Homo sapiens: one gene and its partners. The protein of the gene in region 1 interacts with the protein of each later gene in a pairwise test. Each region holds a gene or a part of one and is shown in the gene's direction. Other genes may lie near its edges.

Region 1 (4,434 bases):
AAAGATACAGTGGTTTACCAATACTTTTGGATAAAGGCTATGTGTCAAGAACCTTTGAAACATACTGGAGGTTATTTCATTACATGACTCAAGGTTTCTCATCTGGAGAATTATTGGCGTTGTAGGTGGGATCATTCATGCATTGCAGGATGCTTAGCATCTCTAGCACCCAGAGTGCAAGTATGGGTAGCACAACAATCAGAAGATGCCCTCTGTTTGTAGAGAGGAGTGGTATCACAGCTTCCACTAGAGATGAGAACTGTTAAAGTTTGAGAGACCTCTAGAGCACTAACAGATAGGAACTAAAGTAACACCAGAAGATTTTGAAGATGTTTATTGGGCCCATTTCCACTGGAAATATTTGGGTGTTTGAAAGATACTTGAAACTCTTTCTCTGTCATTGAGCTACTGGTACCTTACCATAGATGAAAGGGGAAAAGGTAAGGTTTGGGGTAGACAAAGTAAACATTGGTCCTTTTTCAGAAATGCCCTGGATTTCATAAAAGACTGGAACAAATCAGCATTGTCTATAACTAAATGCCTACTTTGTGCTAGACAGTGATCAAATTCTACCTCTTGTGCTCTCTTCGATTCTCACAAAAGCATTTAGAGTCCAGGCATGGTGGTATGTACCCGTGGTCCCAGCTACTAGGGAGGTTGAAGTGGGAGGATTGCTTGAGTCCAGGAGTTTTGGGCTGTAGTGCACTAAACCGATCAGGTGTCTGCATTAAGTTTGGCATCAATATAGTGACCTCCCAGGAGTGAGGGACCACCAGGTTGCCTAAGTAGGAGTGAACCAGAGCAGGTCAGAACTCCCATTTTGAGCATTAGTAGGATCGTACCTGTGAATAGCCACTGCACTCCTGTCTGGTTAACATAGCAAGACCCTTGCCTCTTTCAAAACTTTAATTCTTTTTTTAATTTAAATTTTTACATATTTTTATCTTTTTTTTTTTTTTTTTTTGAGACAGAGTCTCTCACTATCGCCCACGCTGGAGCTCAGTGGCGCGATCTCAGCTCACTGCAACCTCCGCCTCCCGGGTTCAAGCGATTCTCCTGCCTCAGCCTCCCGAGTAGCTGGGATTACAGGTGCCTGCCACCACGCCCAGCTAACTTTTTGTATTTTTAGTAGAGACAGCATTTCACCATGTTGGCCAGGCTGGTCTCGAACTCCTGACCTTGTGATTCGCCCACCTCAGCCTCCCAAAGTGTTGGGATTACAGGCGTGAGCCACCACGCCCTGCTTTTTTATCTTCAAAATAGAGACAGGGTCTCACTGTGTTACCCAGGCTGGTCTCGCTCTCTTGGGTTCAAGCGATCTGCCTGCCTTGGCCTCTTGAAGTGCTGGGATTATAGGTGTGAATCACTATTCCTGGCCAACCCAGGCTCTTTTTAAATCATACTATGTTGTCTTTTGGGTGGAAACTGAAGTAGAAGCAGCAGTACCAAAGTGTTAGGAAAAGGGATAATCGCATTATAGGACTGGCTTTTCTAGCTATCAACAGATTCTTCCCAACCCCCAAGTGTATTCGGCTTGTGTAATAGTCTTGGTACACCTTTTGATATTGGTATGTTAATTTCCTCTGGGATGGTAAACTATATGGTCTGTGGGTTTTGGGGAAAGTTACTGTGTGAGGAATTTTTTTTCTTGACTTCTTTTCTTTTTTTGAGACAAGAGTTTTGCTCTTATTGCCCAGGCTGGTGTGCAATGGCGTGATCTTGGCTCACTGCAACCTCCTTCTCCCGGGTTCAAACGATTCTCCTGCCTCAGCCTCCTGAGTAGATGGGATTACAGGCGCCCGCCACCACGCCCTTCTAAATTTTGTATTTTTATTAGAGATGGGGTTTCACTGTGTTGGCCAGGATGGTCTCGACCTCCTGACCTCAGGTGATCCACCTGCTTCTGCTTCCCAAAGTGCTGGGATTAGAGACTTGAGCCACCGTGCCCGGCCGAGGAATTTTTTTTCTGCTGAGAGAAGGGATATAAAGGAGAAACTTTCCCATATTAGCTCAAATGATTTAGAAATAAATTTTGTCTCAATATTATGTTCCTTTTGTAGAAAGTTGTTTAGGTCAAGAGTAAATAGCTCAGATTTTTCCGTCTTTCTGCTTTCTACTTGAGTCAGGTTATTATGGCATGTGTTCAAATCATTCCCATCTAAATAAACCTTTTTTTTTTTTTTTTTTTTTTGAGATGGAGTTTCACTCTTGTTGCCCAGGCTGGAGTGCAATAGCTCGAACTCAGCTCACCACAACCTCCTGCCTCCCGGGTTCAAGTGATCCTCCCTCCTCAGCCTCCTGAGTAGCTAGGATTACAGGCAGGTGCCACCATGCCCGACTGCTTCAGCCTCCCAAAGTACTGGGATTACACGCATGAGCCACCGTGCCTGGCTGAATTTTGGGTTTTTAAATAGCTTTATCGAGGTATTATTTAAACACCATAACATTCACCCATTGAAATTGTACAATTCAGGCTAGATGCGGTGGCTCACATCCATAATTCCAGCACTTTGAGTGGCCGAAGCAGGCGGATCACTTGAGGTCAGGAGTTCGAGACCAGCCTGGCCAACATGGTGAAACCCCGTCTCTACTAAAAATACAAAAATTGGTGGCGCATGCCTGTAATCCTAGTTACCGGGGAGGCTGAGGCCGAAGAATGGCTTGAACCCAGGAGACAGGTTGCAGCGAGCCGATATCACACCACTGCACTCCAGCCTGCAAGACAGAGTGAGACTCCATCTCAAAAAAAAAAAAAATTGTACAATTCAGTGATTTTTTTTTTTTTTTTTTTTTTTGAGATGGTATCTCACTCTGTTACCCAGGTGGGAGTGCAGTGGTGCAATCACGGTTCACTGCAGCCTCAACCTTCTGGGCTCAAGGGATCCTCTCATTTCAGCCTCCCAAGTAGCTAGGACTACAGGTGCAAGCCACCATGCCTGAGTAATTTTTAAATCTTCTGTGGAGACAGGAGTCTTGCTATGTTGCTTAGGCTGGTCTTTGAACTGTTGGGCTCAAGTGATCTGCTCACCTTAGCCTCCCAAAGTGCTGAGATTACAGGCGTGAGTCACTGCGCCCAGCCCAATTAAATTATTATTATTGTTTTTTTTTGAGATAGAGTCTCAGTCTGTTGCCCAGACTGGAATGCAGTGGTGCAGTCTTGGCTCACTACAACCGCAGCCTCCCAGATTCAAGCAGTTCTCATGCCCTAGCCTCCTGCGTAGCTGGGACTGCAGGTGTGCACCACCAAGCCCAGCTAATTTTTGTATTTTTAGTGGAGACAGGGTTTTGCAATATTGACCAGGCTGGTCTCGAACTCCTGAGTGCCTCTCAAAGTGCTGGGATTACAGGCGTTAGCCACTGTGCCTGGCTCCAATTAAATGATTTGGAATAAATTTATAGAGCTATGCAACCACCACTATGATCCAGTTTCAGAACATTTTTGTGTCCCCCAAAATTCTCTTGATTCCCATTTGTAGTTAATTACAACTCCCTCCCTCAGCCCCAGGCATTCACTGATCTGCTTTTTTTTTTTTTTTTTTTTTTGAGACAGAGTCTGGCTTTTTCGCCCAGGCAGGAGTGGCACAATCTCAGCTCACTGCAACCTCCCCTTCCCGGGCTCAAGCAATTCTCCTGCCTCAGCCTCCCGAGTAGCTGGGACTACAGATGTGTACCACCACACCAAGCTAATTTTTGTAATTTTAGTAGAGACACGGTTTCACTGTGTTGGCCAGGCTGGTCTCAAACTCCTGACCTCAAGTGATCTGCCTGCCTCGGCCTCCCAGAGTGCTGGGATTACAGGTGTGAGCCACCGTGCCCGGCTGATCTGCTTTCTGTCTCTATAAATTTGTCTTTCCCAGACATTTCATGTAAATGGAATTAGTATGTAGTATCTTGTGTCTTATTTCTTTCACTTAGTATAATGTTTTTGGGGTTCTTCCAAGTTGTAGCATGTTTTAATATTTTGCTTATTGTTGTTGGATAATATTCCTTTGTATGGATATACCACATTTTGTTTTTCCATGTCACCATCCATTGATGAACATTTGAATTTGTTTTCTGTTTTTGGCTATTAAAATGCTGCTGTAAACAATTGTAAATAAGTCTTTGTGTGGGCTTTTTTTTTTTTTTCATTTTTCCTGGGTAGAAATCTAGGATCAAATTTGTTATCTTCTTTAAAGCATAGGGTTTCTCTGTCCTTTTTGTCCGAATGTCCTCTTTGAAATAAGGCATTGGATTTTTTTCCTCATTCTTTACCCCCCCCTTTTTTTTTTAATTTTCCCATTTTTCTTACCCAGGGAGCACAATACTTGGGAACCTGAGAAAAACTTGGATTGCCCTGAGCTAATTTCTGAATTTATGAAAAAGTATAAGAAGATGAAGGAGGGTGAAAATAATAAACCCAGGGAGAAGTCAGAAAGTAACAAGAGGAAATCC
Region 2 (4,434 bases), on another chromosome or scaffold:
TGGTGGTGGGTGCCTGTAATCCCAGCTACTTGGGAGGCTGAAGCAGGAGAATTGCTTGAACTCAGGAGGCGGAGGTTGCAGTGAGCTGAGATCGAGCCATTTCACTCCAGCCTAGGCGACAAGAGTAAAACTTCATCTCAAAAAAAAAAAAAAGAGAGAAAAGAAAATAAGCCACATTAAGAACATCACTTCATTCGAATACAAGACAGAGAGCTGTTACCGTTGATCTCTGGAGCCTCCCTGAAGGCCAGGTGGGGCAGGTGTTCTCATGCTCCTGCCAGGGAAATTGGCCATCAGAGACACAGAGTATCTTGCTTAGGGTCCCACAGCCCCCAGCAGCAGGGACTGGAACCAGAGACTGGCTGCTCCTGCTCCCCAGCAGTTCCTTCCTGCACATCAGGGGCTTCTCCACCTGATTCAAGCGACAGGAACCCCCTGTGCATCTTCATCCTCCTGCTGGCTCAGCCTGCCCTAAACAGATGTGACCTGGGCCAGGAGTGCATGAAGGCAGGCCCTGTTGTCCTGCATGCTGCCAGCTGGACTGGTGGCCCTTCCGTGTTTGTCAGCGTGGTGATGAGGAGAGCTCCTGTAGCAGCGTCCCTTTAGGGTTGCACAGACGTGCTCAAGTCTGGCGCCTTATGTACGTGATATGTGGGAGATCATCATCTGAATGTTTGGTTTGAATCAGAAATCCCTTCTCACGGTGCACGCTGCAGGTGTTCACTAACTTGGAAAATGCCACCGCCTTTCTGGCACAATGTACCATCTTGGAACACCAGCATTCTGCCCTGAGCCAGGCCTGGCCTCAGAGGCCTGGGCCACAGGGAGAACCTCACAGCCAGGACACTGTGGCACTCTGCTGTCTAGAAGCCTGTCTCCCCACCCTTCCCATTCTAACCCCATGCGTTCCTCAGCCTCCCCACTGTGCAAGCCTAGGTAAGGACATTATGAAGACGTCAGCCTGCCTCTCACATTCCCCTGCACACTGCTGTCCCTCTCCCGCGGGCCAAGCAGACCCACTGTGGCAAAAATATAGAAGAATGACTTAAAAGCAAAGAGAAAAAAGAACCCAAAGCAAAAATGAACTCCTTCGCATGTTTTCTAACCATATACCTTTGAAAAAGCTCCTTATAAAGTGGCCTTTTCCTTAGGGCCATGATTAATTATTCATTTAGTTTTGTTTTTTATGGACTATTTAGTAACATTGTTTCTTGCTGGGTAGAGTTTAAGATGCTTTTACAAAGCAAGAAAATTGTTTACAAACAGCTGGCTTCCTTTTATTATAATTTTTGTCTTTGAGGGAGTTAATATACTCTTACAAAAATTCTTAGAAAGTCTTTAGTCACAAATATGGAAATGTCACAATGCTGGGGATAGTTACATTCATATACATTGTAACAAGGCTGAGTAACTCTTTGGAAAACTATAATTGTGTTTTCCCAAGTCAGATGAGGGCATTTTGAAATGACTTCGAATGCTGCCTCATTTTATTGTTTTTCACATTAAATGTAACGACATTTAAAGTTCTGTATTTGTCCTAATCATTCCAGACTTCTTAGAAGAACTATTTCTTTCTTTTTTTTTTTTTTTTTTTTTTTTTTTTTGAGATGGAGTCTCACTCTGTCGCGCAGGCTGGAGTGCAGTGGCACAATCTCAGCTCACTGCAACCTCCGCCTCCTGGGTTCAAGTGATTGTCCTACCTCAGCCTCCTGAGTAGCTGGGACTACAGACTTACATCACCATGCCCGGCTAATTTTTGTATTTTTAGTAGAGACAGGGTTGCACCATGTTGGCTAGGCTGGTCTCGAACTCCTGACCTCAGGTGATCCACCCGCCTCAGCCTCCTAAAGTGCTGGGATTACAGGCATGATCACCATGCCTGGCCTGGAATAACTTTTCTCTAAATTTTGTTCATTTAAAAAGAAACAATAAATGAGCAACAAAAAAGGTGAGTAAAGCAAGTGCGCTGGTTTCTCAGTGGCCCAGGTCTTTAAATCCACTGTGTATTACCCTCACAGGGCTTCTTTCGGCGAACGATTCGACTCAAGCTGGTGTATGACAAGTGCGACCGCAGCTGCAAGATCCAGAAAAAGAACAGAAACAAATGCCAGTATTGTCGATTTCACAAGTGCCTTTCTGTCGGGATGTCACACAACGGTAGGTAAGGTGGCCCTGCACATTTTCCCAGTTCGTTCCTCAGTTCCCCTTCCTTGCTCCAAGGGAACAGATCAAGCTATGGATGAATGTGCTTCAACATTTCACACCCAAGTCATTTTGTAATCAGAGTGGCCTAAGAAAATAAAAGTCGCCCAGGCGCGGTGGTTCACGCCTGTAATCCCAGCACTTTGGGAGGCTGAGGTGGGTGGATCACCTCAGGTCAGGAGTTTGAGACCAGCCTGGCCAATATGGTGAAACCCCGTCTCTACTAAGAATGCAAAAATTAGCTGGGTGTGGTGGCACATGCCTGTAGTCCCAGCTACTCGGGAGGCTGAGGCAGAAGAATCGCTTGAACCCGGGAGGCGGAGGTTGCAGTGAGCTGAGATTGCGCCACTGCACTCCAGCCTGGGCGACAGAGGGAGATTCCGTCTCACAAAAAAAAAAAAAAGAAAAAGAAAGAAAGAAAGAAAATAAAAGTCTCCCAGGTGCGGTGGTTCACACCTGTAATCCCAGCACTTTGGAGGCCGAGGCGGGTGGATCACTTGAGGTCAGGAGTTTGAGACCAGCCTGGCGAACATGGCAAAACCCCGTCTCTAATAAAAATACAAAAATTAGCTGGGCATGGTAGTGCACACCTGTAATCCCAGCTACTTGGGAGGATGAGACAGGAGAATAGCTTGAACCCGGGAGGCGGAGGTTGCAGTGAGCTGAGATCGCACCACTGCACTCCAGCCTGGGCGACAGAGTGCGACTCCGTCTCAAAAAAAAAGAAAAAAAAAGAAAAAGTCTCAAATAGCTGAGATTCAGTGGTGCATTGGACTCGCTGTTAGAAACTTCAGTGGTAAGACTTTGATACAGAATCGAAAAACCAAGTGGAAGGCACCAAAATGACAGAATGTTCACCTCGTCCATAGGAAGGGTGTACCACCTCAAACATCTCACCACGTTATGAATTTCCTTCTAGCCAATCATTTAATAGTTTCAGAACATGCTAATTGTGATGTGAATGTAAGTCGTTCATAAGAGTTGCATGTCTACCTTCTGGAAAAAGAAGCAGTTATTATATAAACTCATCCCGAAGCCCCGTTCACCTCCTTCACTCAAAGGTTGATGATGCACCTGATAGTGGTGTGCACCCTACTAATGAGACGAACGATGGTGTCACCTTCAGCCTGCACCTGTTAACGATGGTGTCACCTTCAGCCTGCACCTGTTTAAACATCTACAGTGTATGGAGTTTGAGTTTTTCATCTCTCCATAGTGGAAAGCCGAATAGTAATGAAGGATGGGTCTGAACTGCCTGTGAATTTTCATTCCTGGTTTAAAGTCCTGGGGGAGCCCCTCGTCCAGCCCTGTCCGCGCAGTCATGACCTCACTGCTCATGCCTGTGTTTCCCCCTCCAAACCCTAGCGATTCGTTTTGGACGAATGCCAAGATCTGAGAAAGCAAAACTGAAAGCAGAAATTCTTACCTGTGAACATGACATAGAAGATTCTGAAACTGCAGATCTCAAATCTCTGGCCAAGAGAATCTACGAGGCCTACTTGAAGAACTTCAACATGAACAAGGTCAAAGCCCGGGTCATCCTCTCAGGAAAGGCCAGTAACAATCCAGTAGGTGTTTGCGGCTGTTCTGGGTTCTCTTGGCAACATGGAACCAGTGTCGTAGAGGACGATTAAGGACACATGTGTTGAATGTTGAGAAAATTATATTTATCCCACAGTTAAGCAAAGGACAGCGAAGATGGAAACAGTTCATTCTGAGACTCTGAGCTGTAGCTTAACAACAACTCCTTTCTTCTTGCTTGGAGCCACCTCAAAGCTCTTAGCAACTAAGTTATTATACTGGCTATGTAATTAATACACTTAAAAAAAACCTTAATAGCTTACCAAGTACTAAGATGATTTCTTAGGAGCATTTTTTCTTAAATAGAGATAGGTTCTTGCTCTGTTGCCCAGGCTGGAATGCAGTGGTGCAATCATAGTTCACTGCAGCCTTGAACTCCTGGGCTCAAGCAATCCTCCTGCCTCAGCCTCCCAAGGAGCTGGGACTACAGGTGTGCACCACCACACCTGGCTATGTTTGATGTTGTTGTTGTTTTGTTTTGTTTTTGTTTTTTGGTAGAGATGAGATGTTTCCCAGGCTGGTCTCAAACTCCTGGCCTCAAGTGATCTTCCCACCTCGGCCTCCCAAAGCACTGGCATTACAGGTGTGAGTCATGGCACCCAGCATTAACTGGATTTAAAAAAAAAAAAACTGACCAGGCAAGATGGGTCA
Region 3 (4,434 bases), on another chromosome or scaffold:
ATGGAGCTGAGGCTTGTGAGAAAGGTAGGTATTACCTCACTCAGGAGGCTAAAGTTTGTTCTGAGATAATTTAATTGCATGTCTAAAATCCAGAGAGTGATGATGAATCTCAAGGCCTTTGTGCCTTCTGTGAGGCTACACGGCATGTGATTTCTTTTGGTGGCAGTCAGAAGGGGATGACGTGGTCTGGCCACTGGAATATGAAGGGGAGTTGCCCAAATAGCATTTCCCTCTTTGGTAGGGCTCTTACCTGGCAGGAGACTCATGCCAGTCGGATCTGGTGTTAAGGAGGGTTTGCTCCGGAGAGTTTAGCCAGTGATTAGGTTCTTTTTGATATCTCCCTCTCTTTCTTCCTTTCTGTTGTCCTGCTGTCCCCGTGTCAGGCCTGTGTTGTTGTTATAGCCTCCCTTTCCCTCCTGCTTCCTTTGGCCCTTCTGATCCAGTCTGTATGCAGCTACCAGGTCATTCTTCCTAAAACACCCCTTCCCGGTGTCACTCCCTTTCTCACAGACTTGCAATGGCTCCCCGTTCCCTGCAGTCTGACCCTAGACAGTGTCCCCTCCAGCTCTTCCCTAGCCATACCATGCACATTTTTTCTTCCTGCATCTTCACTGCTGCCGCTCCCCTTCCTTTACTCCCACTTGAATCCCACTTGTCCTTAGTCTGGTTGTTGCTCAGACCACTCCAGGCCAACATAGTCATCCCCGCCTGAGCTCATGACTCTGGATTTTCTAACGTGGTATCCTCTTGAGTGGTTTTGTAGGTTGGAAATTTCTTAAGGACAGGAACAATATGAGTGTTAAACCTCTGTGTGTGTGTGTGTGTGTGTGAATATTCTGGTATTTCTTGTACAGTGCTGTGCACATCATTTTTGTTGAGTGAATAAATGTGGTTGGTTGCTGAGTTAGGCAGGAACAAGGGGGAGACCTTCCTTTCAGCTTCTCCAGAAATGCTCATATTGGAGTCCTTGGAGATTTCCAGCCCTTTCTGTCAAAGGCATATGGATAGGGCATGTTTGGGGTGCTGTAAATGGGAAATTTAACTGCTGTTTCTAATATTTCTGCTGGTGAAGAGTCCTATGGATTGCTTATGTGATACCATATAGACATTGGAAAAGGGCTGTAATCCTGTTTTCCTCCTACCTCACCGGACCACCATTCTTTCTACCCAGCTTTGCTGCTCTTATGCAGTTTTCCTTGTTGTTCATGCTAAATGAATCCATGTTTTATCTCTTCTCAAACCGGGTGCAAATGAGGGAGAAAACACAATTCTGAGCACAGAAAAGAAAAATACTCCTGGGTCTGGCCCATAGATGGGACTTTTGGGGCTGGTTTGGAAGAGGTGTTTATGGGGGCATCACCAACATAAGAGGCACAATCAGCCCCACATTGGACCCCTCATAAAGGAAAGCTACAATCCCTGCTCTCTCAGGCTTCTGTTTTGGTTCACCATCAACCCTGGACCATGGGGGAAACGGGAAAGAGGACTGGTGACTGGTTAGAGGCCAGATAGTGAAAAAATATATTCTGCATCCATCCCCTTTCCCCCAAACCTCCCTTTTGTGCCCCAGTTTGATGATTAATGGACCAGCATTTCCCTTCTACGCGGGAAGGCCACCCCTCACAGTTGCCATGGCAATGCAGACCGCTCCCCCGTCAATTAAAAAAAAAATCCCTACTACTTCTCTCCTCCTTCTACTGTAGCAGGAGAAAAGCTACCTCAGAATGCATCTCCTGGGCTCTCTTCTCAGCTCCTTTAGCTGTGTTTGCTGTGTGTCCTAGAACACAGTCCTTCCTCTCTTTCTGGGGATTGCCTGAGTTTCTTCACTCTGAGCAAATTGTGCCCCTTCTGGAGCCAGCAGCCCCTGGAACACTTATATCAAGAAACAGAGAAAATTTCTGTTTATTTATTCATCCCCGGTGCAAATTAAAAACTAGAGAGAGCTCCTTTTGGGTAAAAAAAAAAAAAAAAAAAACAACCCTTTCACACCTTCTCTGGTTAGAGGTATAAGTTGGGGCACATTTGACATCCAGAAAGGAAGTTTTAGTAAACCTGGAAGGAATTCAGCCTCCTAGCATACATACTTCAAATTGGAGTTCTATGGGGAATTCTCAAAATTATTTTCATTCCTCCTCACCTCTCTGTTCCAGCATCCAGGAGGACTTGTGTGTTTTCATTTTATCTGTTCTTATTCCTCTTGGCCTTGCTCCGGCAACATCTGGCCTCAGCACCCTGTCGCAAGGTGAGTCATTAAGGAGAATAAAAACCTTAAGGAAAAAAAGTCTCTGGAGTTGAGAAGTAGCCTGTGTTGAACTAAGGCTGCCAGGCGAAGCTGCCGAGTTTATGGAGCATTATACGAACAGCCCCGACATTAAAGGGCCTCCTTTTTATGAATGGGTTGTGAAGAATGTAAATAAAGCAGCATCTCTCAATGGGGAAGCATTTTACATAAGCAGTACTACCCCGACCCAAGTATTTATGGGAATTTGCTAGCACAGTCTGGCAAGGCTCACTTCCTTTGTGAACTTGCCATTGTGCTGGGGACTTTGGAGGGACAAGGAGAGTGTGCTTCGGTTCTGAGGGCAGCCCCAGCACTCCCACTCTGCAGGTTTCCTGGCGTTGACTTGATGGGCCAGCTCATGGCTGGAAATGCCTGTTAACCCTGAAGTGACAGAAAATACCATGCGCAGTCAAGAGCTCATGATAATTAGAGATAGAGGCTCCTGATCCTGGGGTCTGGAGATGGTGTAGCTCCTGACCCCTCAGGCTGCTTAGACCTCCACAGGACAGAGGACAGGGAGTTCTTGGATGATGAAATCTTGCCCGGTTTTATGGGAGGCACCTAAGTGGTGTAAAATGGGCTGGTTTGAATTTCAGCTCCTTTATGTTCCCCTGCCCACCTCCTGGTACTGCCACTAATGATCAGTAAAATGGCTAAAAAGGAGGAGGAGAAAGAGCACCAGCAGCAGTGAGGCTGCACGTGGTCTGCTCAGGGCCAGACGGCCTGACAAGCACCCTCACTGAACACCGGCCCAGCCCTGGGGTTCCAACAGGGGTGTTGGTGTCCTGCCCCAGGTGACTTGGTAAGCAGGCCCTGGAGTACAGTCACATCCAGGACTTTGTGTTGTGTCCCTGTGGGTGGGAGTGGGGTCATCAGATTTCATTTTTCCCAGTGGGAAACACCTGCAAGGATGGTTATTCACTTGACTCAGTGTCCCCCCAACACAAAAAAATAACATTGTCTTTTAAGATCCTCTGCAGGCCCAATCCACCAGGAGAAAAAAAGGGGTTTGTCTCTCAGCCTCGCTGATTTGAATTGGGAACTTATTTCTAAGCACTATGACCAAGTTAGCTGAATGAAAAAAAACAGGTGATTTCTTAGTCTTGTTACCAATGTCAGGCAGGAACTTGGGTCTCAATATTTTTTCTTGCATGTGTTCCTTTTCCAGTGGGTTTGGGGAAAAGAGGTGCTTTGACCTCCTGTCTTTGGGTAAGGAGGATGGGACCTGTCTTTCTGCCGTTCTCTTGACCCCAGGGATCTCACCTGGAGTGCTGTTGATGGCTCCTACTTTTATTCCATCTCCAATGCCTTTTGGGGACTCCTAGCCTCCATCAGTGCAGCTTTTTCAGCTTCCTGCGTGCAGTGGAGAGGGGCAGCCCACACAGACCCTTTTCCAACTCTGGTTACCTGTCCACAATGTTTAGGAATAATTGTTAATCACATTCTCATGTGGCCAGGTGGTTTAAAGGTGAATTACTGTTTTTTAGAGGACCTATGTAGAAATCGTGGGAAAGGTATTATTAGGGTGCCGCTTGATGCCAGGAGATCCTAACAAGTATGCCAGAAGGAGGGGTGAAGTCACGTTTCCACCATAGTCAGGGCCAGCAGGGCCTTCCTCAGTAGTGAGGGGTGTCTCCTGCTTTGTGCCTGGAGGGGTTTCCACATTGGCTAGAATGTAAAAAAGAATTATAAAAATGATTGAGGCCAGGTGCCGTGGCTCACACCTTTAATCCCAGCACTTTGGGAGGCTGAGGCGGGTGGATCACTTGAGGTCAGGAGTTCAAGACCACCCTGGCCAACATGCTGAAACCCCGTCTCTACTAAAAATACAAAAATGAGCCGGGTCTGGTAGCATACACCTGTAATTCCAGCTACTCAGGAGGCTGAGACAGGAGAATTGTTTGAACCCAGGAGACAGAGGTTGCAGATCGCGCCAGTGCACTCCAGTCTGGGCGACAGAGCAAGACTCTGTCTCCAGAATAAATAAATAAATAAATAAATAAATAAATAAATAAATAAATAAATAAATAAAAATAAAAATGATTGAATAACTGAGAGATGATTTCCAGAGAAATTGAAAGGACTTGAATTTATTTGGCCCAGAGGGAGGTAGACAAGGGGCAGTTAATATGTCTTTGCATGTTAAGATGACA
Region 4 (4,434 bases), on another chromosome or scaffold:
AGCTCAGGTGAATAAGGTAGACATGGCCCCCCCCTCATGGGGCTACATTTTAGCAATCCCTTAGCTTAGGTGATGGGTCCGGAGGATGCCAAAGCTGCCTGCCTCATTAGGAACCTCACTGCTCTCTTCTTGTAGCCAGTCTGGTGACCACCTCAGAAGTGATTCTCAAACTTGGCCTGCTCTGGGCTGTGTACCCAAAATCTCTGCCATCACCTCTACCAAAAACCCTTTGCATCCTGTCCTTGCTTACTAGGAAACAATCTTGTAACTAATTGTCTTGCCCACTGGACTGCTAGACTGTGGGCTCCATGTGGGCAGACTTCCTGAACCACGCTGGTATGTCCACTTGGTATGTGCCAGGTACACTTGATGGTAAGTGCACAGCAACTGGTAGTTGAGTAACTAGGTGAGAAATTACACACAGCCTGACGGGGAAGAACAGCACCTTTTGGCAGAGTCTGTCGTTTTGTTTGATGCCCCACAGAAGAGGGTTCTCCTAATGGCCATCACCACAGGGCGTTTGAATTTGCGCGTCTGTCTTCCCCACTTCTCAGTGAGCTCTTTAAAGACTAGCACCAATAAGCGTTCAGCTAGTGTTTGTGCTGCTACTTTTTCATACCTCATCACCTGTCACATGTCTGACATACAGCAGGTGATCAGTAAACACCAAAGTAAATCTCCTGGCCTCTTTTTGTGTCAGTTGTCACTCCACCCCGATTATTCAGTGTGCGATCAGTGTGAGCATATTGTGGTGAGGGGCTTTAGAAAACCCACTCGTGTTTCCTCTCTTGTATTGCCCTTGTATTGCCCTGAAAAGACCAGAAGCCAGATCTTGCTTGATAATGATAGGTTGGACAACCTTCACATAAGTGATTCTGCCTATAAAGTATATCTTTTTTTTTTTTTTTTTTTTTTTTTTGATAGCAGGGTCTCACTGTTGCTGAGGCTGGAGTGCAGTGGAGTGGTCTCCGCTCATTGCATCCTCCGCCTCCCAGGCTCAAGCGATCCTCTCACCTCAAACTCCTGAGTAGCTGAGACTACAGGCACGTTCCACCACGCCGGCTAATTTTTTTAATTTTTTGGTAGAGATAGGGTTTCGCCATGTTGCCCAGGCTGGTCTCAAACTCTTGAGCTCAAGCGATCTACCTGCCTTGGCCTCCCAAAGTGCTAGGATTACAGGTGTGAGCCACTGCACCCAGCCTATATATCTAATATGTATTTTTTTTTCCTGCAAAAAGATTAAAAACACCTCTATTAGAGGAATTTTTTCCCTATTCGGAGTTTAATGAGTTATAAATACTACTTTCCACAACAAGCACTGTGTATTTTATGGGCCCAGCACACTTCCGACGCGTGACTCTGCTAGTTAGCACTGTGTATTTTAAAGTACTTTTATGCTCCTGTTGGGCTTCAGTGTCAGTGTTGAAGGGGCTAGTAATTTTTGAGCTGGCAATACGTTTTTAAAGTTATTCTTTTGAGTAACAAATATTTACTGAATGCTTACCATGGGTAAGCCTATTTTTCAGGCTGTGTGTGAGATTTAAAAGTACACAACTATTCAGCAAACACTTATTGTGCGTTTACCATGTGCAGGTTCTGTGCTAGTGGACAGGAAAGTAAGGTGACAGGAGCCGGACGTGGTGGCTCACACCTGTAATCCTAGCATTTTGGGAGGCCGAGAGGGCCCAAATTGCTTGAGCCCAGGCGTTCAAGACCAGCTTAGGCAACATAGCAAGACCCCCATCTCTACAAAAGAAAAAAAAAAATCTGGGCACGGTGGCATACACTTGTCCTAACTGCTTAGGAGGCTGAGGGGGGTGGATGGCTCGAGCTCAAGAGTTCGAGACTGCAGTGAGCTAGGACCGTGCCACTGCACTCCAACCTAGGTGACAGAGCCAGACCTTGTCTCTTTAAAAAAAAAAAAAAAAAAGCCATAAAGCAGCGAGCTAGGACCGTGCCACTGCACTCCAGCCTAGGTGAGAGCCAGACCTTGTCTCCTTAAAAAAAAAAGAAAAAAAGCCATAAAGATTAGCAAAAGGGAAAGATTCTACCCCTGTAAGAGCTCTCAGTGCCCTCAGTGGGCAGGGAACGTAGTCCTCGGTTATGAACCTGCATCTAAGAGTTATCAAAGTGACCTGGACAGAGTGAGGCAGTGGAGGTAGAGAAGGGCACAGCATTTCATAAAGGAATATCTCTCTGTATTAGTCATCTATTGCTGTGTATCAGATCACCCCCAACTTGGCATCATAAAACAACAGATAGTTCTGAGGGTCAGGAATTTGGGGGTGACTTAGCTGGCTGCTTCTGACCCAGGGTCTTTCATGAGGCTGCAGTCAAGCTGTTGGCCCAGGGCTGAGGTCATCTGGGAGCTTACTCACATGGTGGTTGGCAGGCCTCCTCTCCTCGCTGGCAGTTGGACTGGGGGCCTCAACTCCTCAGCACTTCACCCTCTCCACAGGGCAACCTGAGTGTCCTCAAGACATGGCACCTGGCTTCCCCTAGAGCTAGTGATCCAAGGTGGGGAGGGAGAGAGGGGGAGAGAGAAAAAGAGAGTGGGGGAGACAGGAAAAGGCCATAGTGTCATTTGTAACCCAATCTCAAAAATGACATGGTCATTTCTGCCATATACACATAGACACACAGATCACCTTGGTAAAGTGAGGGTGGTGGAGATTACACGGGATGCAAATACCAGGAGGTGGGTTTCACTGGGGCCATCTTGGAGTCTGGCTGCCACAACCTCTTCCTCTGGCTGGGGAGAGAAGCAATATGCTCAACAGCCTGCCATCTGGTATAGCCACTGCCAGGAAGGATGGTAGGGCTGGAGTGTTTCTAGGCAGGGCTGCTTCCCTCACTAGCATTCCTTTACATGACTGGTAGGATCCCTGCTGATGCTTCAAGGATAAGGCATGTTTGAGATGGTACACAAACCTAAATTCTCTTCACTATGTATAGTGTGCATTGTTAAAATATATACATGATAGCCCGGGCGCGGTGGCTCACGCCTGTAATCCCAGCACTTTGGGAGTCCAAGGCGGGTGGATCACGAGGTCAGGAGATCGAGACTATCCTGGCTAACACGGTGAAACCCCATCTCTACTAAATATACAAAAAATTAGCCGGGTGCGGTGGCGGGCGCCTGTAGTCCCAGCTACTCAGGAGGCTGAGGCAGGAGAATGGCATGAACCTGGGAGGCGGAGCTTGCAGTGAGACGAAATCGTGCCGCTGCACTCCAGCCTGGGCGACAGAGCGAGACTCCGTCTCAAAAATAAATAGATAAATATATATATAACATAATCTGTAATATACTGTATAAATCATGTAGTAAACTGGGCACAGTGGCTCGTGCCTGTAATCCCAACACTATGGGAGGCCGAGGCTGCCAGATCACCTGAGGTCAGGAATTCGAGACCAGCCTGTCCAACATGGTAAAACCCCATCTCTACTAAAAGTACTAAATTAGTTGGGTATAGTGGTGTGAGCCTGTAGTCCCAGCTACTCCGGAGGCTGAGGCAGGAGAATCAATGGAACCTGGAAAGCAGAGGTTACAGTGAGCCGAGATTGCACCATTGCACTCCAGCCTGGGTGACAGAGCGAAACTCTGTCTCAGAATAAAAAAATACATAATATAGTAATTAACTATACTAATTTATAATTAATATAATTATATATAATAATAAAAGAGCATGAAATTTGAGGCTTTTAAAAAAACCTAGGTGAGATATTTTCTAATAATACAATCCCAAAGTTTACATTGTAAAGGTTAAACAGTTTTCAAGCTAAGTCATTTACTGTATCTTACAGGATAATTTATTTGGCTAACATAAATTAGTAACTGAATTTAACATTTTTTTTCAGGTGTGTTTTGATTGTGGTGCCAAAAATCCCAGCTGGGCAAGCATAACCTATGGAGTGTTCCTTTGCATTGATTGCTCAGGGTCCCACCGGTCACTTGGTGTTCACTTGAGTTTTATTCGGTAAGTGAATCTTCTCTCATTGGGGTGAGATTGATTACATTGTTACATGGGTGTTTTTTTCCCTTTTTTCTTTTCTTTTTTTGAGACAGTGTCTTGCCTTGTCGCCTGTCACCTTGGCTGCAGGAGTGCCATCATAGCTCACTGGGCTCAAGTGAACTCAGCCTCTACAAAAAATAAAAAATGTTGTGGTGTGATGATGTATAACTCTAGTCCTAGTTACTCAGGAGGCTGAAGTGGGAGGATCACTTAAGCCCAGGAGTCAAGGCTGCAGTGAACTATGATCTTGCCGCTGCATTCCAGCCTGGGCGACAGAGTAAGACCCTGTCTCTTAAAAAAAAAAAAAAGAAAGAAAGAAATGTGATTTTCAGTGTTGCCATACAGTATTAAAAGGTGAGGCCTTTAAGAATTGATTGAGCCCTCATTGGTATGGGTTAATGGGTTATCATGTAAGCGGCTT
Region 5 (4,434 bases), on another chromosome or scaffold:
GGTGGCAGGCATCTGTAATCCCAGCTACTCTGGAGGCTGGGGCAGAAGAATTGCTTGAACCTGGGAGGCAGAGGCTGCAGTGAGCTCAGATCGCGCCTTTGCACTCCAGCTCGGTGACAACAGTGAAACTCCGTTGCAAAAAAAAAAAAAAAAAAAAAAAGTCCCCATAAGGAACAGCTTACTTTTGCCAGATTTTAAAATTCCACCTGTGGCCGGGGGCCCTCCCCATGGTTTCACTTTTAGTTCATGTTTCTTCTGTTTGTTTGTTTGTTTTTTCCCCTGCCGGAAGACCTCATTTTCCTCGTCCATATCTTTGGCCTGCTGCGGCTGCTCCGTTTTTTGTTTTTTGTTTTTTTGAGACAGGGTCTTGCTCTGTCACCAGGGCTGGAGTACAGTGGTGCAGTCTCAGCTCACTGCAGCCTGCAACCTCCACCCTCCACCTCCTGGGCTCAAGAGATCCTCACATGTCAGCCTCCCAGGTAGCTGGGACTTCAGGTATGTACCACCATGTCCAGCTAATGTTTGTATCTTTTGTAGAGAAAGGGTTTCGGTATTTTGCCCAGGCTGGTCTCAAACTCCTAGGCTCAAGAAATCACCCACCTCAACCTCCCGAAGTGCTGAGATTGCAGGCATGAGCCACTGCACCTGACCTTGCCTGCTTTTTTTCTTTTTTCTTTTTTTTTTTTTGACACTGAGTCTCGCTCTATCACCCAGGCTGGAGTACAGTGGCGCGATCTCGGCTCACTGCAACCTCTGCCTCGTGGGTTCAAGCGATTCTCCTGCCTCAGCCTCCCAAGGAGCTGGGACTACAGGCGCCCACCACCATGCCTGGCTAATTTTTGTATTTTTAGTAGAGTCAGGGTTTTACCATGTTGGCCAGGCTGGTCTCAAATTCCTGACCTCGAATGATCCACCCACCTCGGCCTCCCAAAGTTCTGGGATTGCAGGCATGAGCCACCGCGCCTGGCCTTGCCTGCTTCTTGAGCTGCTTCTTGCCACCTTCAAGGCAAGACTTGGTTCTTGCCACTCTTACCCCCTACCCTGCTACCAAAACCTACATCTTGTTTTTTTTAGGCATTTCAAGGTAGATTACACTTTTAAATCAAGTGGTTAAGGTAGGATCTCCTGAAGTAGATATCTGGGCAAAGACTTGAAGGAGAGAAGGGAGTTAGCATGTTATCTGGGGACAGTTGTCCCAAGCAGAGCACAGCCAAGGCAGAAGCCCTAAGACAAGAGCATGACTGGCATGTTCTCTGAGCAGTACTAGGGCCCTGTGGTGGAACGAAGTAAGGGAGAGAGAGTAGTAGGAAATGAGAGCTGAGGTGTAATGGGGAGCAGATCATGCAGGACCTGTATGCCATTATGAGGGTTTCAACTTGTACTCTGAATGAAACGAGGAATTATTGGAAGGTCTTTGGGCAGAGAAGTAATGTGAGCTGACTCACATTTTAAGAATCAGTAGGCCAACTGCAGTGACTCACACCTATAATCCCAGCACTTTGGGAGGCTGAGGCAAGAGGATCACTTGAGCCCAGGAGGTTGAGGCTGCAGTGAGCCAAGATTGTGCCACTGCACTCCAGCCTGGTCAACAGAGTGAGACCTAATCTCAAAAAAAAAAAAAAAAAAAAAAAAAAGAAGAAGATGTGGAGTGCTTCAAATCCCACCAGAAAATCTTATTTCTATAGTGCCCTGTTCTTGTGAAGCTAGCATATGTAACTCTGCTACATAATCCAAGGTCTCCTATAAATGAATTTTTAATACTCATTTTTTTAAACTTTGTTAACTAAAAGGTTGAGATTTAAGCTCCTAACTAGTTTGTTTCTTGCGCAGCCCACAGAACTTAATTGCCCAATCTCAGTCTGGTACTGGTAAAACAGCTGCCTTCGTGCTGGCCATGCTTAGCCAAGTAGAACCTGCAAACAAATACCCCCAGGTAAGGATTTATGAATTTAGGTTTTCTACTAATGCATAGATAGAAGGGGATTTCCATTTGATGGATTAAAAGACAAGCTATGGGCTGGGTGCAGTGGCTCATGCCTGTAATCCCAGCACTTTGGGAGGCCGAGGTGGGCGGATCACCTGAGGTCAGGAGTTCTAGACCAGCCTGGCCAACATGGTGAAACCCTGTCTCTACTAAAAATAAAAAATTAGCTGGGCCTGGTGGCATGTGCCTGTAATCCCAGCTACTTGGGAAACTGAGGCAAGAGAATCATTTGAACCCGGGAGGCGGAGGTTGCAGTGAGCTGAGATCGCACCATTGCACTCCAGCCTGGGCAAAAAGAACGAAACTCTGTCTCAAAAAAATAAAATAAAAGCCAAGCTATGCATTACTTTTTACACAAACTGAAACTCCTTAAATTGAGCACAAATAATACGGGATATCTTCCAATGGCAATAAAAATCCTGTTTCCTTTTTCCATGGTGTGCCAGTTCTGGGATGCTTCTTACAGGCTTGGCTCCTTTACTTGCAGGAAAACCTGTTTCATCAGCAACTGCCATCCATTAGAAAGTTCTGAGAGCTTTCTGAGTAAACGAAAAGAAAGCTAATGCCAATTGGAACTTTAGATCCTTGCTCATGGGTGGGTTTTTGTATTGCAGTGGCCAGTATCTGTTTTCAAGTGTCTTTACCCAGCCAGAGTTCTGACCCCTAAGAATTCTAGCTTATGACTCTGTAGCTTAAAGAATCAAATGGTGTACATTTTAATGTACATATTCTTTCCTTCAGCTTCAGCTGGAGGAGTGGCTAAGTACTAATGGTAATTCCCCTTTGCAAAAGAGCTATTGTCTTGAATTTGCACTCTGCATTCTTTTCCTGCCAGTGTCTATGTCTCTCCCCAACGTATGAGCTCGCCCTCCAAACAGGAAAAGTGATTGAACAAATGGGCAAATTTTACCCTGAACTGAAGCTAGCTTATGCTGTTCGAGGCAATAAATGTGAGTATGTGAATTTGGTCCTAAATCATCAACCTAATTCTTTTTATTTTGAAATATTTCAAAACCCACCCAATAGTTGAAATAATACAATAAACACATGTATGTTCTCCAGCTAGATTCAAAAACTTAACATTTTGCCATATTTGCTTTACATAAATGTATACATTTTTGTCAAACCATTTGAAAGTAAACTGCAGACATGCACCTCATGAGGACATTCTTTGCCATACCTATGGATACCCTTTTATCACAACCAGGAAAATTAACAGATTTCCTAGAATAACTAATACCAGTCCATTTTTATTCCTCCCCAGCTGTTCCCAAAGTCTTCCTTTATAGCTGTTTGGTTTTTCGACCAAGATCAAGTTAGCGTTTATACGTTGCGTTTGGTTGTTGTACTTGTTTCTTTCAATCTAGAATTGTACCCCTACCTTTTTCTCTCCCTATTATATTTAACATTTTGCACAGACCAGACTAGTTGCTTTTCAAATATTCTACATTCTGGCCGGGCGCGGTGGCTCACGCCTGTAATCCCAGCCCTTTGGGAGGCCGAGGCGGGCAGCAGATCACGAGATCAGGAGATTGAGACCATCCTAGCTATCATGGTGAAACCCCGTATCTAATAAAAATACAAAAAAATTAGCCAGGCGTGGTGGCGGGCACCTGTAGTCCCAGCTACTTGCGAGGCTGAGGCAGGAGAATGGTGTGAACCTGGGAGGCAGAGCTAGCAGTGAGCTGAAATAGCGCCACTGCACTCGAGCCTGGGCGACAGAGCGAGACTCCGTCTCAAAACAAGCAAACAAACAAAAAACAAACAAACAAAAATTCTACATTCTAGATTTGTTTATTTTTATTTATTTATTTTAGAAACAGAGTCTTGCTCTGTCACTCAGGCTGGAGTACAGTGGCATGATCTTGGCTCACTGCAACCTCTGCCCTCCGGGTTCAAGTGATTCTCCTGCCTCAGACTCCCAAGTAGCTGGGATTACAGGTGCCTGCCACCATGGCTGGCTAATTTTGTATTTTTAGTACAGATGGGGTTTCACCACGTTGGCCAGGCTGGTCTCAAACTCTTGACCTCAGGTTATCCATCTGCCTCGGCCTCCCAAAGTGCTGAGATTATAGGTGTGAGCCACTGTGCCCAGACTTCTTTCTTTTTTTTTTGAGAGAGAGTCTCGCCCTGTCGCCCAGGCTGGAGAGCAGTGGCACAGTCTTGGCTCACTGCAAGCTCTGCCTCTGGGGTTCACACCATTCTCCTGCCTCAGCCTCCTGAGTAGCTGGGACTACAGGCGCCCACCACTACGCCCAGCTAATTTTTTGTATTTTTAGTAGAGACGGGGTTTCACTGTGTTAGCCAGGATGGTCTCTATCTGCTGACCTCGTGATCCTCCCGCCTTGGCCTCCCAAAGTGCTGGGATTACAGGCGTGAGCCACTGCGCCTGGCCGCCTTCTTTTTTTTATTTTGAGACAGTTTCGCTAGGTCACCTAGGCTGGAGTTCT
Region 6 (4,434 bases), on another chromosome or scaffold:
CCAGTGCCATTGTATGTTACCCAAGCACATGTATGTCATAGGACTTCCTTATTGACTGTTCCTCAAATACCGGAGGAGGGTATAGTCAAATGATTAACCAGAATGTTGGTAGGCACTTGTGTTTTTCATTGTCAACCAACAGATGAAATTAAACATTTTCTCATTCTGAATACTAAATGATGAACTTTGTATTAGTTTACTTTAAGAAATTTCTGAATATTATTTAGCCCTCTATGCAGTATAATAAATTGATGTAACTCCTCCCATAACATTTGTAAGCATAAATCTTGGGCACTGAGCCCCTGGAAAGAGGAGATCACATTTACTGTAGATCTGTTTCTTTTATAGTTGTTAAAGGGTAATTTAGGCCTTTCTAGAATTATTTTTCAGGCTTGAGATTTAAATTTTGAGCTCTATGCTTGTGAATTTCTTAAAGTTAAGTCAGGGCATAAAAATAGCTATGGAATGTGCTCTTTGTATATTCATATAATTTGTATTAACTCCTAATTATTCACTGATAACTGTGTTAACATATAACTGATATCAATACAAAAATGTAATATTACAACTTAATATCAAGTTTAATATCATTTAATAGTTTGAACATTTAGAATAAATGGGAGACTTACCTGATTGTAGTTTATATGTGCTTTTTTCAAAATTCTTGATTTTTAACTATTTTTGTACCATGATATTTTAATATTAATGTACTGATTAATCTCTTAAAGCAAATCTTCTCTTTATTTTTGTAGGTTACTATTCGAGCTTCAGTTGGACCTCTGCAATCAGGAGCTTCACCTACACCTTCCATTAGTGCAAGTGCTTCTACCCTTCAGCTCTCACCTCCAAGGACTAAAAATATAACTGCTAAAAATCCTGCAAAATCTAATACAAGTAAACCTAATACAGTCAAATCCAACGCAAGTAAACCTAATACAAGTAAGCCTAATGGAAGTAAATCTAAATACAAACCAAAAATCTCTAATATGCAAAAGAAACAAAGCACATTGGCTAGTAGCAATAAAAAAAGTAAAGTCAATACAGCATTGAGGAATTTAAGGTAATCTTTTATTCCTGATATACAATATAATTTAAACTTAAGTATAAAAACTTATACTTTAGTTAAGAGAACATTATTAAGGCTCTTCCTTATTATTTTTGTTTTAAAATATATTTTTATCATTTTTTTAATGTCTCCCTAAGGTATCGTCGGGGCATTCACAAATGCATTGAGTGTTGTTCCGAAATAAAAGATTTTGCAAACCACTTTCCTACGTACGTCCACTGTAGTTTTTGCAGATACAACACTAGCTGTAGCAAAGCCTATGTAAATCATATGATGAGGTAAGATGAATTAAATGTGTAAATTGCCAATTAAAATTATAGTTCAGCAAGTTTCTGTTTCAAAAACAAAGTTATCCTATTAGAAGCCAGTTTTTCTCTTCAAGGAGCTAAAAGGATCTAACAATAAGGAACTTTTAGGATATTGCCTGGTCCTATTTCTCAGCATAGTAACTAGAAATTATGGGACTAAAATTGTAAGAAAAATTAAGCTAATGAAATTAGAATAGGTTTGTTAGGGTAATAGTTTTTCTTTTTTATTTTTTTGAGATGGAGTCTCGCTCTGTTGCCCAGGCTGGAGTGCAGTGGCATCAGCTCACTGAAACCTCTGCCTCCCAGGATCAAGCAATTCCCCTGCCTTCGCCTCCTGAGTAGCTGGGACAACAGGTGTGAGCCACCATGCCTGGCTAGTTTTTGGATTTTTAGTAGAGACAGGGTTTCACCATGTTGGCCAGGCTGGTCTCAAACTGCTGACCTCAAGTGATCTGCCCGCCTTGGCCTCCCAAAGTGCTGGGATTACAGGCATGAGCCATTGCACCCGGCTGGGAAATAGTTTTTCCATGGAACTTTTTATTGCCCCATTGGTGTTTCAATAATGGTTACTTTCCAACAGAATTTTAAATTTTTAAATATATTTACTAAATAAATACTTGTAATCTCATGAGCGTCATCCTCCTTTTTTTTTTTTTTTTTTGAGACGGAGTCTCGCTGTGTCGCCCAGGCTGTAGTGGCGTCATCCTCTTTAAAGCAGTCACTTTGAGAGACTTTAAGATTTTCAGTGGAGTCTGTTTCTCTTTCTGTATTCCAACTGTCTTTTTATCCATCTGTCAGGCCATCTATACTTGCATCCATTCAGTGAAAATGAGACACCATTCCACCATGATGCCACTTTTGGAATTCTTTTTCATTAATTCATTCAACTTAGATTATTTGAGTACTTACTATTTACACTATGTTAGGAAAAGCCTTCAGAGTCTGCATTATTTTCATTTTTAGATCTCATTAGGGGAATACTTTATTCCTTCAGAATGGGTTTGTATTTTTTTTAAGTAGGCAAAAGTTGTTTAGATATAAACCTGAGAGTTTGCTTTTTCAAAGTAAGTTTGTTCAGTTTTTGTTTAAAATTAGAATTAATGTATTATAAGTGACTTTCTTGCAGATTACACATGACTTCTCTGTTACTTGCTGGTCATTATCAACTACTGCTTTCAAGGATTCTTCTACCTTTTTTGGTGGCTTCAGCACTTCTCTCGGTTTTCCCATGTCTTCATGGTTGGCCTGACCTCATGGTATCTTGCTTCTTTAGTGCCAGCATTTCACATCAACTTTTAAGTTCATATATTGTCTTTTTTTTTCTTGAAACTACAGTACTATTTAAATCTCTTCCTATAAACTGTTCATTCCTTTTGGATTTCCATTACCCCATGATGTTCAGAGCTTTGACTCCTTTTTCCAGCCTAGTAGCACCCATCTTAATTTTGTAGTCAACCTTACTCTCAGGATCATCTGTTTTGATTGTGGCTTTTTGTCCTAGAATCCTTTACATCTTTAGTCATGCTCACTGGCATAAAGGCCAAGGTAAGATTTGAACCTCTTCTCTTTTGAACTTCCTCTGTGCTCACTTCTAGACTATCAAATGGTCCTTGATTTAGTCAACTCTGATTTCAAAAACTTTAATTCTGATTAGGTCTTATTTTTTTAAAAAAGATCTCTTTATTTTTACCTGCAACATTTGTTTAATCCTTCTTCAGTACCCTAAAGATTTTATTTTAGTTTCTCAGTTGTTAACTTGGCCTATTAATTAGTCAATTGTAGGTCATCCTTTTTATTTTTCCTAAAATTAACTCTTTTCAACCCCACGTATTTTTCCTGTTACCTTCAATCAGACATTAATCTTAAAAATCTAACATGTCTCACTTCCCCATTAACTGTCCTTTCTCCCCCAGTTCACCATGACCATATTCAGTTAACTTGGATCTTCATCTCTTTCTCTCTATATGGTTCCTTCTGCTTACAAACATTTTCAGGTATTTAAAAAATTTTTTGGAAGAGGACAGTTTGTCCCAACTGCCTGTTTTCCTTATTTCTTGTCTTCCTTTTTACCATTAACATTTGTAAAAAGTGTTTGCTACCAGCTTTATTGTGATTCATTTCTTTACCTTTTGAGTATTGCCCCCACCTACCAACTAACATTCCTCTTTTAAAGATTATCTGTTATGAACATATCACCATATTTACTCCCTATTTTTCATTCTTACTCCTCTGTGACTTCTTTAGAGTATTTGACATTGTTGTCACTCACTTTTTAAAACTTAATTTGTTTAATGTTCCTGACAGCCATGTGAAATTAATTAATTTAAAAATTTTTATAGAGACTACTTCATATTTGTGGAGTACATGTGATATTTTGTTACAAGCATACAATATGTAATAAACCCAGGGATATCCATCACTTCCAATTTTATCATTTCTTCATTTCTTCTTCTTTTTCTTTTTTTGTGAGATGGGGTCTCACTCTGTCACCCCAGAGTGCTAGGTCTTGCAGTCAAAGCTCACTGCAACCTCAAACTCCTAGGCTGAAGTGATCCTCCTGTGTTAGCCTCCTGAGTAGCCATATAGGTGTGTGCCACCATGCCCAGCTACATTTATCATTTCTTTGTGATGGGAACATTCAAAATATACTCTTCTAATTAGTTTGCAATATACAAGAAATTCTTGTTCATTGTCATCACACACAGCTCTTAGTGTCATATGGAACTAAAAGCTTCCATTGCCACTCTTAGGGTTGGGTAGGTCTTTTTGTCTTTTTCTCAACCTCAGTGGTACCCTTGCTTCCCTCATTGCATTAGGTGCATCCCACTGAATGGCGAACTCTTCTCTGCAGTGTTGATTCTTGTTAGAAGTTTGAGGTTTATATATACAGAAGCCTGATTTTCTCCAAAGCATGAGAACCTTTAATTCCTATCCCGTACTAACTCTGTAGCCTCTCAATTGGTCTTTTTCCCTTTGGTCTCATACCTGCCCCAATCCATCCCTGTAAGTTGGTTAATCTTCCACAGAGTATAGTTTCTTCCATATTAATTTTCTTTCTTT
Region 7 (4,434 bases), on another chromosome or scaffold:
GGTATAAACCCCTTAAATGGGGGTCATCACCACCCATGACTGTCAGCCCGGCGCTGCAGCTGCTCCCACCACCTCCCCAAACCTGGCTGCTATACCCAGGAAGGGTCCTGGCTTCCCTTCTCTGTGCCTGGCCTGCTGTCTTCCCTCTTTTCCTGAGACCCTGTGCACCCCAACCTCCCGCTGGCCACCTCCCAGCCTGAACTCTGACCAAGCCCCCATGGCTCAGGATGCGCCAGCTCAGCTACCTTCTCTCTGTTCCCCAAAAAAGCCTCTTTTTTTCCTGCCTCATGGCCTTGGCCCTCCTTCTCCCTAGACCAGTGGCACTGGGAACAGGCATGCTCCCAGCTAGGAAGAAGCCGGGGACATAAAGCTAGCAGCTGTGGTGAGGATACCAGGGTGAGTGCTGAGGGTGAGGGACCTGGGCTTCCTGTTTTTAATGATTAAGCCTCAGCCTCAAAAAGCTTTTGACAGCCTGGACAACATGGCCAGACCCTATCTCTACCAAAATGGAAAAAATTAGCCAGGTATGGTGGCATGTGCCTGTAGTCCCAGCTACTCAGGAGGCTGAGGTGGGAGGATTGCTTGAACCCAGGAGGTCGAGGCTGCACTGAGCTGAGATTGTGCCACTGCACTCCAGACAGAGTGAGACTCTGTTAAAAAAAAAAAAAAAAAAGCTTTGATTATGAGGTTATATCTATTGATCGTTACTGTATTAAAAATTAAAACTGAGGAGTTTAAAAGTATTTTAAATATTAATATTTTTATATGAATATTTAGTACTTTAAAGATTTAAAAATATTGTTTAATATTTTAACATTATAAAATGCAAGTACCAAGCCTATCACCTGTTTACATTAAGACTTTTTATGAAAAAATAACTTTTCCAAAACAAAAATGTACTGAAGACACTGGCATTATTCTACATTTTGCAAATCTCTTTATTGTATGACTTTAAATAAGCCACATTCTGCGTTTGATCTGTTGTTGCATTGTGTTGTTTGGGTTAAAGTAACTGAAGAACTGGACGGGCGAGGTGGCTCACACCTGTAATCCCAGCACATTGGGAGGCCGAGGTGGGCAGATCATGAGGTTAAGAGATTGAGACTGTCTTGGCCAACATGGTGAAACCCTGTCTCTACTGAAAATACAAAAAATTATCTGGGCGTGGTGGCACGTGCCTGTAGTCCCAGCTACTCAGGAAGCTGAGGCAGGAGGATTGCTTGAAACCGGGAGGTGGAGGTTACAGTGAGCTGAATTCACGCCACTTCACTCCAGCCTGGGTGATACAGTGAGACTCTGTCTCAAAAAAAAAAAGTAGCTAAAGAACATCTGGCCTCACATAGACGTGTAGTTGGGAAAGGGAGGAGTATCTTCATAGCTTTTTCAGATAATTATGCATATTCTTTGTTATCAGGACCAGCGCAAGAAGTGGTAGTTCTTAAAGGTTTGTTGTGGTGTGGAATCTGAAACCATGTTGCTGATTCCACACGGGTCTACCTTGCACTTTGTTTTGTTTTTTTTTGTTTTGTTTTGTTTTTGAGATGAAATCTCACTCTGTCGCCCAGGCTGGAGTGCAGTGGTGCGATCTCAGCTCACTGCAACCTCTGCCTCCCGGTTCAAGTGATTCTCTTGCCTCAGCCTCCCGAGTAGCTGGGATTACAGGTGCCCACCGACGCCCGGATAATTTTTGTCTTTTCAGTAGAGACGGGGTTTCACCATGTTGCCAGGCTGGTCTCAAACTCCTGACCTCAAATCATCCGTCTGCCTCGGCTTCCCAAAGTGCTGGGATTACAGGCGTGAGCCACCACAACTGGCCACACTTTGAATGGATCTTTTAGATGTGTCTGATTTCATAACCACATACATCGATCATTTCGAAAATATTGTTTCACCAAGTTATGCACGTCTTCCAAGTGTTGACACCCTTCATTATATAATATCCTAAAAAAGCACATTTGTTTTCTGACCTCATCAGAAAAGTCCTTAGATATTAGGATGCTGTGACCCTGCTGGTGGTGGATACGCGCTTTTCAAAATTCTACTCTTGGATTCGTTTTGGCTCAATTTTTTTTTTCTTTTTGAGATGGAGTCTTGCTCTGTTGCCCAGGCTGGAGTGCAGTGGCACAATCTCAGCTCACTGCAAGCTCCGCCTCCCGGGTTCACGCCATTCTCCTGCCTCAGCCTCCCGAGTAGCTGGGACTACAGGCGCCCACCACTACGCCCGGCTAATTTTTTGTATTTCTACTAGAGACGGGGTTTCACCGTGGTCTCGATCTCCTGACCTAGTGATCCGCCCGCCTCGGCCTCCCAAAGTGCTGGGATTACAGGCGTGAGCCACCGCACCCGGCCTTGGCCCAATTTTTAAATTATTGTCAGCACGTGGTGTTTTATTTTTGTGATGGATTCACTTCATTGACTTGTGAAAAAATGTCTTCCAGATACCCAAGACTGAATAACCATTGTCAGTCGTTCTTTTAATTAATAATAGTGGTTCAGGTGAAAAAGTGGCTAGTGCAGCTGGCAGCTTAGAGACGAGCGCTTTTCACAGAGAGTTGGGTTTGCAGCAACAGGCATTGTGCACACTTCCCACCTCAGCACACAGAAGAGTAGAATGGCATGTACTTGAGTTTAGATTTAGTAAAATTAGGACTTTTGCAGGCGCAGTGGCTCACGCCTGTAATCCCAGCACTTTGGGAGGCTGAGGCAGGTGGTTCACTTGAGGACGAGTTCAAGACCAGCCTGGCCAACATAGCGAAACCCTATCTCTACTAAAAATATAAAAAATTAGCTGGGTGTGATGGTACATGCCTGTAATTCCAGCTACTTGGGAGGCTGAGGCACCAGAATCCCTTGAACCCATGAGGTGGAGGTTGCAGTGAGCTGAGATTGCGCCACTGCATTCAGCCTGAGTGACAGAGTGAGAGTCTGTCTCAAAAAAAGAAAAAAAATTAGTACTTTTTACACCTTCATCAAGGACATTCCTCAGTGAAACTGGACATCTCTCCTTCCCGTGAGTGTGTGGTCCGAGGATAGTGTTTGATGCTCTGGCCTTGACTGGGGCTGAGGCTTCAGCAGCTAGTTCCTCATTGCTTTTGTGCCATCAGGGCAAATGTCAACATAGTGAAAGGGAAAGTAACATTTTAGTATCATAATTTTAGTATCATGATTAGTTACGACCTCGTGGATCCCCCATGGGTCTCAAGGACGTCCAAGGGTCAGAGGATGCAAGCTGAGAACCACTGGCCTGGACATCCTCCTCCTTTGTAAACTCCTCCAGGCCAGCTCAGGTCCCCCCATCATAGGCTTTTAAAATTCTCTGCTCTGGACCAGGCGCAGTGGCTCACGCCTGTAATCCCAGCACTTTGGGAGGCCGAGGCGGGTGGATCACTTGAGGTCAGGAGTTCGAGACCAGACTGGCCAACATGGTGAAACCCTGTCTCTATTAAAAATACAAAAATTAGCCGGAAGTCGCTTGAACCCAGGAGGCAGTGGTTGCAGTGAGCTGAGATTGTTCCACTACACACCAGCCTGGGCAACAGAGCAAGACTCCGTCTCAAAAAAAAGAAAAAAAATTTCTCTGCTCTGTTCCACCATTGCCCATGCTGGTGTTGTTGATAGGACTATTTGATGATTGTTATCTAGACCAGATGGTGGTTCTGTTTTGCTCACCATTGGGGTCCTGGGGCCTGGCCCAGGTCCCAGTACACTGTAGACACTTGATGAATATTTGTTGACAGAATAAGCTGCTTTGTGTTGGGCCCCATGCTGGGAGTTTGGGGCCTGGAGCTGCAGCAAACATTGTCCCTCTTCTCGAGATATTCCCAGCCCAGTGAAGGTGCCCAGCCGTGCTCTCAGATGGGCATGGGAAGACCATCTGGGAAGCAGCCGGGGACATGAAGCCAGCAGCTCCGATAAGGACACTAGTATGAGTGCTGAGGGGAGGGTCCTGGGCATGGTGGGGGCTCCACGGCTAGTGATGGGAGCAGTGGCCAGGCCCTTGCTGGAACCCGGTCCCCTGGACCCCTTAGAGTGGGACCTGTGTGGTCTCTGATGAGATCTTTTGTGCCTTTCTTTTCCCCCTCAGGTCACAGTTACCTGGAGAGGCTCCTGAATGTTGAGGTGCCCCAGAAAGTTGGGTGAGTTCAGTTCCAGGGCTTCGGAGGTAGGCAGGGCATACCAGGACAGGGAGCCAAGGTGAGCACCAGGGCTGGAAGCAATTCCTGGGCTGAGTCTTCCCCACTGAGCCTTGACCGCCCAGGAGCTGCCCCGTTTTCCCTGTCTGACCAGGCAGTGAGTGATGTGGGTGTTGGCCACCTGGTCTCCTTGCAGCACCCGTCAGCGTTGCTGGTTGCCTGGCTAGACCTGACCCTGGGGCGTGGGCTCCAGAGGTTGGGGGTGAGGCGGGGCTGCCAGGAAGAGCTACATTCAAACTGG

Evidence for each region.
Region 2: the proteins of CBX5 (region 1) and PPARA interact in binary tests that used the Homo sapiens proteins (3 or more experiments, as listed by UniProt).
Region 3: the proteins of CBX5 (region 1) and BAHD1 interact in binary tests that used the Homo sapiens proteins (3 or more experiments, as listed by UniProt).
Region 4: the proteins of CBX5 (region 1) and ARFGAP3 interact in binary tests that used the Homo sapiens proteins (3 or more experiments, as listed by UniProt).
Region 5: the proteins of CBX5 (region 1) and DDX19B interact in binary tests that used the Homo sapiens proteins (3 or more experiments, as listed by UniProt).
Region 6: the proteins of CBX5 (region 1) and ZNF280D interact in binary tests that used the Homo sapiens proteins (3 or more experiments, as listed by UniProt).
Region 7: the proteins of CBX5 (region 1) and INCENP interact in binary tests that used the Homo sapiens proteins (3 or more experiments, as listed by UniProt).

What each region holds. Positions count from the first base shown.
Region 1 is NC_000012.12:54,252,089-54,256,522, reverse strand, and holds part of CBX5 (chromobox protein homolog 5), read left to right. Parts: intron 1-4,295; coding exon 4,296-4,434. UniProt on the Homo sapiens protein: Component of heterochromatin that recognizes and binds histone H3 tails methylated at 'Lys-9' (H3K9me), leading to epigenetic repression. In contrast, it is excluded from chromatin when 'Tyr-41' of histone H3 is phosphorylated (H3Y41ph).
Region 2 is NC_000022.11:46,216,245-46,220,678, forward strand, and holds part of PPARA (peroxisome proliferator-activated receptor alpha), read left to right. Parts: intron 1-2,018; coding exon 2,019-2,157; coding exon of another isoform or gene 2,158-2,161; intron 2,162-3,567; coding exon 3,568-3,770; intron 3,771-4,434. UniProt on the Homo sapiens protein: Ligand-activated transcription factor. Key regulator of lipid metabolism. Activated by the endogenous ligand 1-palmitoyl-2-oleoyl-sn-glycerol-3-phosphocholine (16:0/18:1-GPC). Activated by oleylethanolamide, a naturally occurring lipid that regulates satiety.
Region 3 is NC_000015.10:40,443,302-40,447,735, forward strand, and holds part of BAHD1 (bromo adjacent homology domain-containing 1 protein), read left to right. Parts: coding exon of another isoform or gene 1-24; intron 25-47; exon of another isoform or gene 48-2,100; coding exon of another isoform or gene 2,101-2,242; intron 2,243-4,434.
Region 4 is NC_000022.11:42,847,057-42,851,490, reverse strand, and holds part of ARFGAP3 (ADP-ribosylation factor GTPase-activating protein 3), read left to right. Parts: intron 1-3,858; coding exon 3,859-3,977; intron 3,978-4,434.
Region 5 is NC_000016.10:70,322,755-70,327,188, forward strand, and holds part of DDX19B (ATP-dependent RNA helicase DDX19B), read left to right. Parts: intron 1-1,830; coding exon 1,831-1,933; intron 1,934-2,819; coding exon 2,820-2,934; intron 2,935-4,434. UniProt on the Homo sapiens protein: ATP-dependent RNA helicase involved in mRNA export from the nucleus.
Region 6 is NC_000015.10:56,663,305-56,667,738, reverse strand, and holds part of ZNF280D (zinc finger protein 280D), read left to right. Parts: intron 1-752; coding exon 753-1,060; intron 1,061-1,203; coding exon 1,204-1,344; intron 1,345-4,434. UniProt on the Homo sapiens protein: May function as a transcription factor.
Region 7 is NC_000011.10:62,133,748-62,138,181, forward strand, and holds part of INCENP (inner centromere protein), read left to right. Parts: intron 1-4,084; coding exon 4,085-4,136; intron 4,137-4,434. UniProt on the Homo sapiens protein: Component of the chromosomal passenger complex (CPC), a complex that acts as a key regulator of mitosis.